Linked DNA regions of Homo sapiens. The protein of the gene in region 1 purifies or fractionates together with the protein of each later gene. This does not show direct contact. Each region holds a gene or a part of one and is shown in the gene's direction. Other genes may lie near its edges. The genes, in order: CMTM2, PRADC1 and MARCHF6.

Region 1 (3,314 bases):
GCTCACACCTGTAATCCCAGCACGTTGGGAGGCTGAGGTGGATGGGTCCCTTTGGTCCAGGAGTTTGAGACCAGACTGGACAACATAGGGAGACCCTGTCTCTACAAAAAAATTTAAAAATTAGCCAAGCATGGTGGCACATGCCTGTTGTTCCAGCTACTCAGGAGGCTGAGGTGGGAGGATGGCTTGAACCCAGGAGGTCAAGGCTACAGAGAGCTCTGATGGTGCCACTGCACTCCAATCTGAGTGACAGAGTGAGACCCTGTCTAAAAAATAATAAAAGAGGTGTCAAGAAGCCAGGCACAGTGATGTGTGCCTGTAGTCCCAGCTTCTCAGGAGGCTGAGGCAGGAGAATGGCATGAACCCGGGAGGCAGAGCTTGCAGTGAGCCGAGATCGTGCCACTGCACTCCAGCCTGGGCGACAGAGTGAGACTCCATCTCAAAAAATAAATAAATAAAATAAAATAAAATAGACATCTATCCAAACCTGCACAAATTGTATTTTAGGTGACACTTCAGGAGCATTTCCTTAGAGATGCTTACTAGCTTCTCTTGTATTCAACATTGTGATAGAGACCTTAGTTCAATATGACAAGAAAAACAAAAGGTATAGAGATTGACAAGAGGAAAAATCTAATAGAATTATCTACACAGAAAATCTAAGAGAATCTACAGTCAAATCACTAGAACTGATTGAGTTCCACAAGGTTACCAGACACAAAAGCAGTAGTGTTCCTGAATACCAACAATGAACAATGAGAAACATAGGATTTTTTTGGCTGGGCACGGGGGCTCACAGCTGTACTCCCAGCACTTTGGGAGGCCGAGGTGGGTGGACCACTTGAGGCCAGGAGTTCCAGACCAGCCTGGCCAACATGGTGAAACACCAGCTCTACTAAAAATACAAAAATTAACCAGGCATGGAGGTGCATGCCTGTAATCCCAGCTACTCGAGAGGCTGAGGCATGAAAATCGCTAGAACCCAGGAGGCAGAGGTTGCCATGAGCCGAGATGGAGCCACTGCACTCCAGCCTGGGTGACAGAGCGAGACTGTCTCAAAAAAAAAAAAATGCTCTTTAAAAGAAATCACTTAAAACAGCAACACAAACTACAAGGTGTCTAAGAATAAACCTACTGAAAGATGTGTAAGACACTACATAGAGATTATAAGACTTTAGTAATGGACATCAAAGGAAAATGTAAATAGAGAAACATTCCACATTCACAAATATGAAAACTTATCATAGAGATGTCAATTCAATTCTGAATTAATCTATAAATTAAATAAAATTTCAACCTAACATGGGTTTTTCATGGCACTTTTACAAGGTGATTCTAAAATTCTTATCAAAGAAGAAAAAATACTAACAAGGATGGACTCACCCAACAAGATATCAGATTTACCATAAAGCTTTGGTACTAGCTCAGGGATTGACAAGAAGACTAACAAAATTGTTACAGATTGAATGTTTGTGTCTCCCACTCTGCAAAATCATACGTTGAGGCCCTAACCCCCACTGTACTGTACTTGAAGATGGGCCTCTAAGGAGGTAGTTAAGGTTAAATGAGGTCAGAACATTGGGGCCCTGATCAAATAAGTGTCTTTTGTTTGTTTGTTTTGAGACAGAGTTTTGCTCTTGTCACCCAGGCTAGAGTGCAGTGGCACAATCTCAGCTCACTGCAACTTCCACCTCCTGGTTCAAGCATTCTCCTGCCTCAGCCTCCTGAGTAGCTAGGATTACAGACATGCGCCACTAAGCCCGGCTAATTTTGTAATTTTGACTAGAGACAGCGTTTTGCCATGTTGGCCTAGCTGGTCTTGAACTCCTGACCTCAGGTGATCTGCCTGCCTTGGCCTCCCAAAGTGCTGTGATTACAGGTGTGAGCCACCACACCCAGCCAGTATCTTTATAAGAGAGCAGAGAATTCTCTCTCCCGCTTGCTCTCTCTCTACACACACACACATGCACACACATACACACGCACGCATCAAAGAAAGGCCATGTGAAAACGTAGTGAGAAGACAGCCATCTGCAAGCCAGGAAGAGAGCCCTCACCAGAAACTGAATTTCCTGGCACCTTGCTCATGGACTTCAGCCTCCAAAACTGCGAGAAAGTTAATGTCTGTTGTTTAAGCCACCCAGTCTGGGATATTTTATTATGGCATCCTGAGTAGACTAATACAGGGATAGAAAAGAGAACTCAGAAATAGATCTACAAACATATGGCAACTTGGTATATGACGGAGGTAGCATTATAGAACAGTTGAATAGAATATTCAATAAATGTCCCTGGGATTTGTGGACAGAGAGGAAGGGAGGGAGAGAGACAGACTATGTATCCCATTAAAATTAAAACTTCAACAGAAGACATCATAGGCCAGGTACAGTGGCTCACACCTATAATCCCGACACTTTGGGAGGCCAAGGCAGGAGGATCACTTGAGTCCAGGAGTCCAGGACTTGGAGACCAGCCTGGGCAACACAGGGAAGCCCTGCCTCTACAAAAACAATTTTTTTTTTTTTTTTTTTGAGATGGAGTTTTGCTCTTGTTGCCCAGGCTGGAGTGCAATGGCGCAATCTCGGCTCACCGCAACCTCTGCCTCCCGGGTTCAAGTGATTCTCCTGCCTCAGCCTCTTGAGTAGCTGGGATTACAGGCATGCACCCCCACGCCCAGCTAATTTTGTATTTTTAGTAGAGACGGGGTTTCTCCATGTTGGTCAGGCTGGTCTCGAACTCCCAACCTCAGGTGATCCGCCCGCCTCAGCCTCCCAAAGTGCTGGGATTACAGGCGTGAGCCACTGCGCCCAGCTTACAAAAACAATTTTTTTAATTGCACAGTGGCAGGTGCCTATAGTCCCAGCTGAGGCTGAGGTGGGGAGGATCACTTGAGCCCAGGAGTTCAAGACTGCAGTGAGTGGTAGAAACACCCTGTGTCTCATTTCGTTCATTCATATAGTAGGCTACATCAGTTAAAATTAATAAATCTATATTTCTCAATGTGGATAAATCTCAAAAGTCAAAAAGCAAGCATTGAAAGGTAGGATACTTTTTATTTAAATATAAAAAGTGTATTTTGAAATACACAAAATAGTATACATTGTTTATAAATATATAATATGTAGAAAAGCACAAATTCAGACAGGAAAACTGCACATCAGCTTCCAAAAGTTGGAGGAGGGAGGCATGAGGGACAGGAAAAGGGAAGGAAGCGAGGGGGCTGCAGCTCCATCCGTGAAGTTGGACTTCTTGTTTTCAAAGAGGCCTAAAGGGGACGTTGGCAAGACGTTAACATCTGTTAAATGTCAGTGGCT
Region 2 (2,888 bases), on another chromosome or scaffold:
CCAGACTATAGCCAGCCCAGCTGAAGACACAGGGTCTGGGATCTGAACCTGAACCAGCTTGTTCCTGGGAGGCTTCTTACCTGTACTCTTTATCCTTCAGGCTTCCGTATCCATGATTATTTGTACTTTCAAGTGCTGAGTCCTGGGGACATTCGATACATCTTCACAGCCACACCTGCCAAGGACTTTGGTGGTATCTTTGTAAGTTAAGGGAGGCCCCTGATCTCTGATCCTCAACCTCCCCCTTCCCCTCACTGAGCTGCAGTGACCCTCTCATCCCACCTGAGTGCTGGGACAGGGAAGGGAGCAGAATCAGCTCTGCCTTCCATGAGCTGCAGCACAGAAAGGAAGCTCTTCCAGCTACTCCCCTGAGTATAATATAAACCTAGGCACCATGGAGGGACAAGTTGTCTTTTTAGGGGACATGAAGTGAAAAGCCAAGAGCACCAGCTTCCTCTGCCAGCTCTACCTGTGAACTATGTGACTTAAGGCACATCACTTCCTCTCTCTGGATCTACAACCAAGTCCCCTGCCTATCTCATAGAAGGGTAGGGTGGTGTAGGACAACCAGATAGGCCTTTGCGAGAATTAAGTAAAAATGTTTAAGTGTCTGGCGATACAGAAACCACTCCATGTTTCCTTCACACTTTATAAGGTGCCAATAAGATGGGATTGTCAGCCCAGTCCTAAAGCAGGTGTGTCTCATTACACTCTCACCTGTCCAAATGTTAAATGTTTTTCAGCACACAAGGTATGAGCAGATTCACCTTGTCCCCGCTGAACCTCCAGAGGCCTGCGGGGAACTCAGCAACGGTTTCTTCATCCAGGACCAGATTGCTCTGGTGGAGAGGGGGTAAGGAGTGGGCAGGCAGGACACGAGGAGTGGGCAGGCATACGGCAGATTCTGAGATTATTGGTAGTAGTGCTTTGAAAGAGCTGTTTTTGAAAATTTCATCTTTTTAAGCGTCTTTAAGAAATGTCTAGCCTGGGCAACATGGAGAAACCCTGTCTGTACAAAAAATACAAAAATTAGCTGGGCATGGTGGTGCACACCTGTGGTCCCAGCTACTCGAGGCTGAGGTGAGAGGATTGCTTGACCGCATGTTAAGGCTGCAGTGAGCCGAGATCACGTCACTGCACTCCAGCCTGGGCAACAGAGCAAAACCCAGTCTCCAAAAAAAAAGAAAAAGGAAAAAGAAATGTATTTAAATTATCCATGCTTTTAGCTATTTACTTATGAGCCTTTATAACAGATTCTTCATAGTCTGCCTTCTATACTCCCAGGGTGATGGTCTGGGGAAGGGGGAGCTAGGACCTGTCTTTCCTTTGGTCTTATCACCACCTCTTCCAGGGGCTGCTCCTTCCTCTCCAAGACTCGGGTGGTCCAGGAGCACGGCGGGCGGGCGGTGATCATCTCTGACAACGCAGTTGACAATGACAGCTTCTACGTGGAGATGATCCAGGACAGTACCCAGCGCACAGCTGACATCCCCGCCCTCTTCCTGCTCGGCCGAGACGGGTGAGGGCTCCTTGCCTCTGGCTTTATCAGCACCAGGCTGGGCGCCATGACTGGGTCAGGGGTAATCACCAGTCCCTTCTTGCAGGCCTCAACTTGGGGTGCTTCAGTTAGAGGGCAAAAAAAGATCTCGGGCTTTGGAACTCCCAGATTGATGGGGACAGTGGGGCATGATGGGGTACCAAGAAAGTGACCGTCACCACCTCTCTTCATGCCCTCCCAGCTACATGATCCGCCGCTCTCTGGAACAGCATGGGCTGCCATGGGCCATCATTTCCATCCCAGTCAATGTCACCAGCATCCCCACCTTTGAGCTGCTGCAACCGCCCTGGACCTTCTGGTAGAAGAGTTTGTCCCACATTCCAGCCATAAGTGACTCTGAGCTGGGAAGGGGAAACCCAGGAATTTTGCTACTTGGAATTTGGAGATAGCATCTGGGGACAAGTGGAGCCAGGTAGAGGAAAAGGGTTTGGGCGTTGCTAGGCTGAAAGGGAAGCCACACCACTGGCCTTCCCTTCCCCAGGGCCCCCAAGGGTGTCTCATGCTACAAGAAGAGGCAAGAGACAGGCCCCAGGGCTTCTGGCTAGAACCCGAAACAAAAGGAGCTGAAGGCAGGTGGCCTGAGAGCCATCTGTGACCTGTCACACTCACCTGGCTCCAGCCTCCCCTACCCAGGGTCTCTGCACAGTGACCTTCACAGCAGTTGTTGGAGTGGTTTAAAGAGCTGGTGTTTGGGGACTCAATAAACCCTCACTGACTTTTTAGCAATAAAGCTTCTCATCAGGGTTGCAACTGTGTCCTAGAATAAGAGCACACGGGTGGGCAGGACCTTCAAACTCACTCGTATCGTCCCATACTGTCGTTCTGAGGAAAGGAAACACCCACAGAGGACAGTGACTGGCCTAGGTCATTTGGGACCAGTGCTCAGACTGCTAGTCTTAGATCCCAGCACAGCTTCCTGCTAGGAGCCAAGGAAGCCCTGGGAAGCCAGAGTTCAGCCCCTCAGGAGAAGACTCATCTTAGAGCCTGGAACTGGGGGTCCAAACTGGACCTCAGGGCTAGGCATGGTGGCCCATGCCTGTAATCCCAGCACTTTGGGAGGCCGAGGTGGGAGGATCAGTTGAGGCCAAGAATTCAAGACCAGCCTTGGCAACAACATAGCAAGATCCCATCTCTACAGAAAAATTAAAAATTAGCTGGGTGTGGTGGTGTGAGCCTATAGTCCCAGCTACTCAGGAGGCGGAGGTGGGAGGATCACTTGGGCCCAGAAGTTCAAGGCTGTAGTGAGCTATGATTGCATTGCTGCATGCCAGCCTGGGTGACAAGGTGAGACCCTGTCTCAAAATTTAAAAACCACCCAAACTGGACCTCA
Region 3 (3,658 bases), on another chromosome or scaffold:
AACTCTTCATTAATGGCGAAACTTGTCTATCCTTGTCCTCTTAGTAAAAGTTGTAGGTATTTGCAGTAAGGGTCAGTGTGGACAAAATGTGAAATAAATTAATTCTGTCAAAAAATACTAAATGTTGGCTAAGTAGTTACCTGTTTCATTGTACCTTTAAATACTCAGTTTTTCCTTGACCTGATGCTGTAGGGCTTGGCAACTCTTGTGAAATTTCATAGATCTCGTCGCTTACTGGGAGTCTGCTATATTGTTGTTAAGGTAATTCCTGTTATAACTTAAAATTGGAAATGATTTCTCCTACATTTGGGTGATACTGATGACCTTTATTTTCACTTAAGGTCTCTTTGTTAGTGGTGGTAGAAATTGGAGTATTCCCTCTCATTTGTGGTTGGTGGCTGGATATCTGTTCCTTGGTAAGTTGAGTATTCATTATTGTATAATAGCATAATTTAAGGGCTTCAAAAGAGGAAGTCTTCAGCATGTATTCTTTTTAAAGGAAAGCAAATATTTGATAATTTGCTTATTCTTTTGGCATGTGTATCAGTATAGGATCTTAATGTTAATTTTTCTTGAGTACCTGAGTTTTTGAGGCTTTGTGCAAATTTTTGATGTCAGGATAGTTTGGGTGGAATCTTTCTAATAGTGGAGGATTTTATTGCCCATTTTGCTGTCGTAAATTTGTGTAGATAATGCCAAGACATTATATACATAGAGAATAATTTGATAAGGAAACTGTCTTTGTAGTAATAAATTTAACCCTAATCATTTGATTTAACTAATATGCTCAGTCTTGATTATACTCTTTAATTGCTGTTAGTGATAATCAGTTTTTGATTGTTTCAAAAATATTTTATGTGTAGAAAAGCTGCCTTTGGTTCTGAGATAACATTTACCCTCCCATACCTTACTTTTAAAACTTCTCAAGAATGCAGACCTATAACCAAGAAAATTTTTTACATTCATCAAAAATAGTTCTTTAATAGAATCAGTATTAATAAAGCTTTTACTAATTGGTTTATCATTCTTTATATTTGAAGCAGTAGCCAATCTTGTATATAGTTCTGTGACACCGTGGAATGACATTAAGTGAACTGCAGTTCTAGGAATTGTTCCTTGCATGCATATTGATTATTTATTTCCTAGAAGATGAAAATGTTAACTTGGCAAATGTAGGGGGCACAGATTTCTCTTACCTGTCCTCTTTTGTCTCAGGAAATGTTTGATGCTACTCTGAAAGATCGAGAACTGAGCTTTCAGTCGGCTCCAGGTACTACCATGTTTCTGCATTGGCTAGTGGGAATGGTATATGTCTTCTACTTTGCCTCCTTCATTCTACTACTGAGAGAGGTAAGTCCACAGGGAAATGCTGATGCTGTACATTTATAAAAAGGACTTTTGCTTTCACCACCAGTCATGTCTCAAAGGCTATGATGATTTCCTACCTAAATCATATTCTCTACTATTTTATTCTAAGAGGGAATAACTTATAGGGGACTTTGACTTAATTACTTTAAACTGTTTCAGTTGTTTGTCTCCATAATTGGCAAGTTTTAATATTTCTGTCTGAGTTTGAAAGACGATTCAACTGAGGAAAAAGATAAGAGTACTCATTTTGTCACACTTCGTATATACTTTAGCCATCCTCTAATACAGACTCTTGGAATTTTGTATGATGTGAGTGTGTCTCAGACTTCAAGGAACTGTACTGCTGGAAATAACCAAAAGGATATGGTTTTGCAGGATCAGACATGTAAAATCATTTTGATTTAGGCGCCTTAAGTATAGAATTACAATGAGGGTCCTTTATGATTCCAGTTCACTGGCCTGATGGATTACCTTTATTTATTTATTTATTTATTTATTTATTTATTTATTTATTTATTTACTTATTTACTTTTTGATACTGAGTCTTGCTCTGTTGCCCAGGCTGGAATGTAGTGCCATGATCTTGGAACCTCCACCTCCCAAGTTCAAGTGATTCTCCTGCTTGAACCTCCCAAGTAGCTGGGACTGCAGGCACCCACCACCATGCCCGGCTAATTTTTGTATTTTTAGTAGAGACAGGGTTTCACCATGTTGGCCAGGCTGTTCTTGAACTCCTGACCTCAAATGATCCACCCACCTTGGCCTCCCAAAGTGCTGGGATTACAGGTGTGAGCCACTGTGCCTGGCCTGATACCTTTATTAGTTCTATGTTTCTAATCTGGTTCTTAGTGATTTGAAGATGATGAAAGCAGTTGAGTATTTGATTAGTGTACATCTCAAGCTCAGTCATTCCCCAAATACTGAATGGTCACTGTGTGCCGGACACTATACTGCATTCTGGGGTTTCAGTGAGAAACAAAGGCACAATTCCTGTTCTCCTCGATTTTATAGCCTGAAAATGAATACAGCATTGAAAATGTTGGTTTACACGGAGACGGGTGATGGAGATGTGCAGGGTGTGGAGGACCAGGTTGACAATTCCAGTGAGAAGGGAACACAAAAGCACAAAGGCTGAATGCTGCTCTTGGTGTACTTTGTTCTTTGAAAGATTTGAGGAAGAGGAGGAGGGGTCAGGGACCAAAGCATTCTCCTGAATCATACGGTATAATTTCAGTAAATTCTCTTGGTAACTAAAGCTTTCATTCTTTCTTTGAAACAACTGATTGAGAACTAAAGCAAGTACAGAAATGTGTTTCTTAAAAATGTAATTATATGTGAACTCCAGATTACTTCATTAAGTGAATAAAATGCTTTATAATGATTTCTTTCATTTTATCAGTGTGGTGGTTTTTGTTGATATAAAATTTTAATATGTGGAACTTAGGCAGAACCTTAGAAATCACACACTGTAACCCCTTGTTTAGGAGATGGAGAATAGAAGTTTGGGCAGATTAGATGCGTTACACAGAGGGTAACTCAGTGAGTTTGGACCACATAGAACTAGTACCCAGACTCCTCCTTTACCCCATCACCTGCAGCCTCTTGGGTGATGATTTTCATTTACAGGGGGAAGGCAAATCAGACCGTCTATTTAGTACATTTATAAATTGCAACATAACCCTTTTACGATAGTAATGGTTGTATTTATTTTTCGTCTCAGAGGTCTAGATTTCTTGACACATTGGACCCAATGAATGTTTTTTTTTTCCCCCGCCCCTAGTGAATGATGATGTCAAAGGACATCATCAGACACAGGGTAGTTTTCATAAAGATTCTGGTTTAGGAACTTACTTTCCTAAGAATACCATGTACATTTTCTGGGGCCCACTTTAGATGCCAGAATAATTCTAAGTGCTTATCTTTCTGTTAATGTTTTAGCTCATATATAGAATTTGAAGACATTGGTGAATATTCATAGTATTTAAAATATATTTGCAGGTACTTCGACCTGGTGTCCTGTGGTTTCTAAGGAATTTGAATGATCCAGATTTCAATCCAGTACAGGAAATGATCCATTTGCCAATATATAGGCATCTCCGAAGATTTATTTTGTCAGTGGTAAGAAGATGTTTCCATTGTTTTTTTTTTTTGAATTAATTGTGCTAACCTATAGTTTTGTTTAGGTTTTTTTTTCCAGTTCTCAAGCAGGCTGATAGAGTATATTGAATAATATATTTATCTAAGCCTGTGGTATTCAGTTGTCAAGTAGCTGTGTTATTGGTTACTTTGT

Evidence for each region.
Region 2: the proteins of CMTM2 (region 1) and PRADC1 purify together in Homo sapiens (affinity purification with mass spectrometry; one large-scale study listed by BioGRID and IntAct). This does not show direct contact.
Region 3: the proteins of CMTM2 (region 1) and MARCHF6 purify together in Homo sapiens (affinity purification with mass spectrometry; one large-scale study listed by BioGRID and IntAct). This does not show direct contact.

Annotation. Positions count from the first base shown.
Region 1 is NC_000016.10:66,582,433-66,585,746, forward strand, and holds part of CMTM2 (CKLF-like MARVEL transmembrane domain-containing protein 2), read left to right. Parts: intron 1-3,314.
Region 2 is NC_000002.12:73,227,426-73,230,313, reverse strand, and holds the end of PRADC1 (protease-associated domain-containing protein 1 precursor), read left to right. Parts: intron 1-100; coding exon 101-201; intron 202-743; coding exon 744-853; intron 854-1,351; coding exon 1,352-1,519; intron 1,520-1,739; coding exon 1,740-1,860; 3' UTR 1,861-2,304; downstream 2,305-2,888. UniProt on the Homo sapiens protein: Plays a role in the modulation of physical activity and adiposity.
Region 3 is NC_000005.10:10,402,192-10,405,849, forward strand, and holds part of MARCHF6 (E3 ubiquitin-protein ligase MARCHF6), read left to right. Parts: intron 1-172; exon of another isoform or gene 173-192; coding exon 193-261; intron 262-341; coding exon 342-416; intron 417-1,215; coding exon 1,216-1,350; intron 1,351-2,379; coding exon of another isoform or gene 2,380-2,430; exon of another isoform or gene 2,431-2,749; intron 2,750-3,366; coding exon 3,367-3,486; intron 3,487-3,658. UniProt on the Homo sapiens protein: Endoplasmic reticulum membrane-associated E3 ubiquitin ligase that plays a critical role in mitigating endoplasmic reticulum stress, the regulation of cholesterol and lipid homeostasis, and ferroptosis.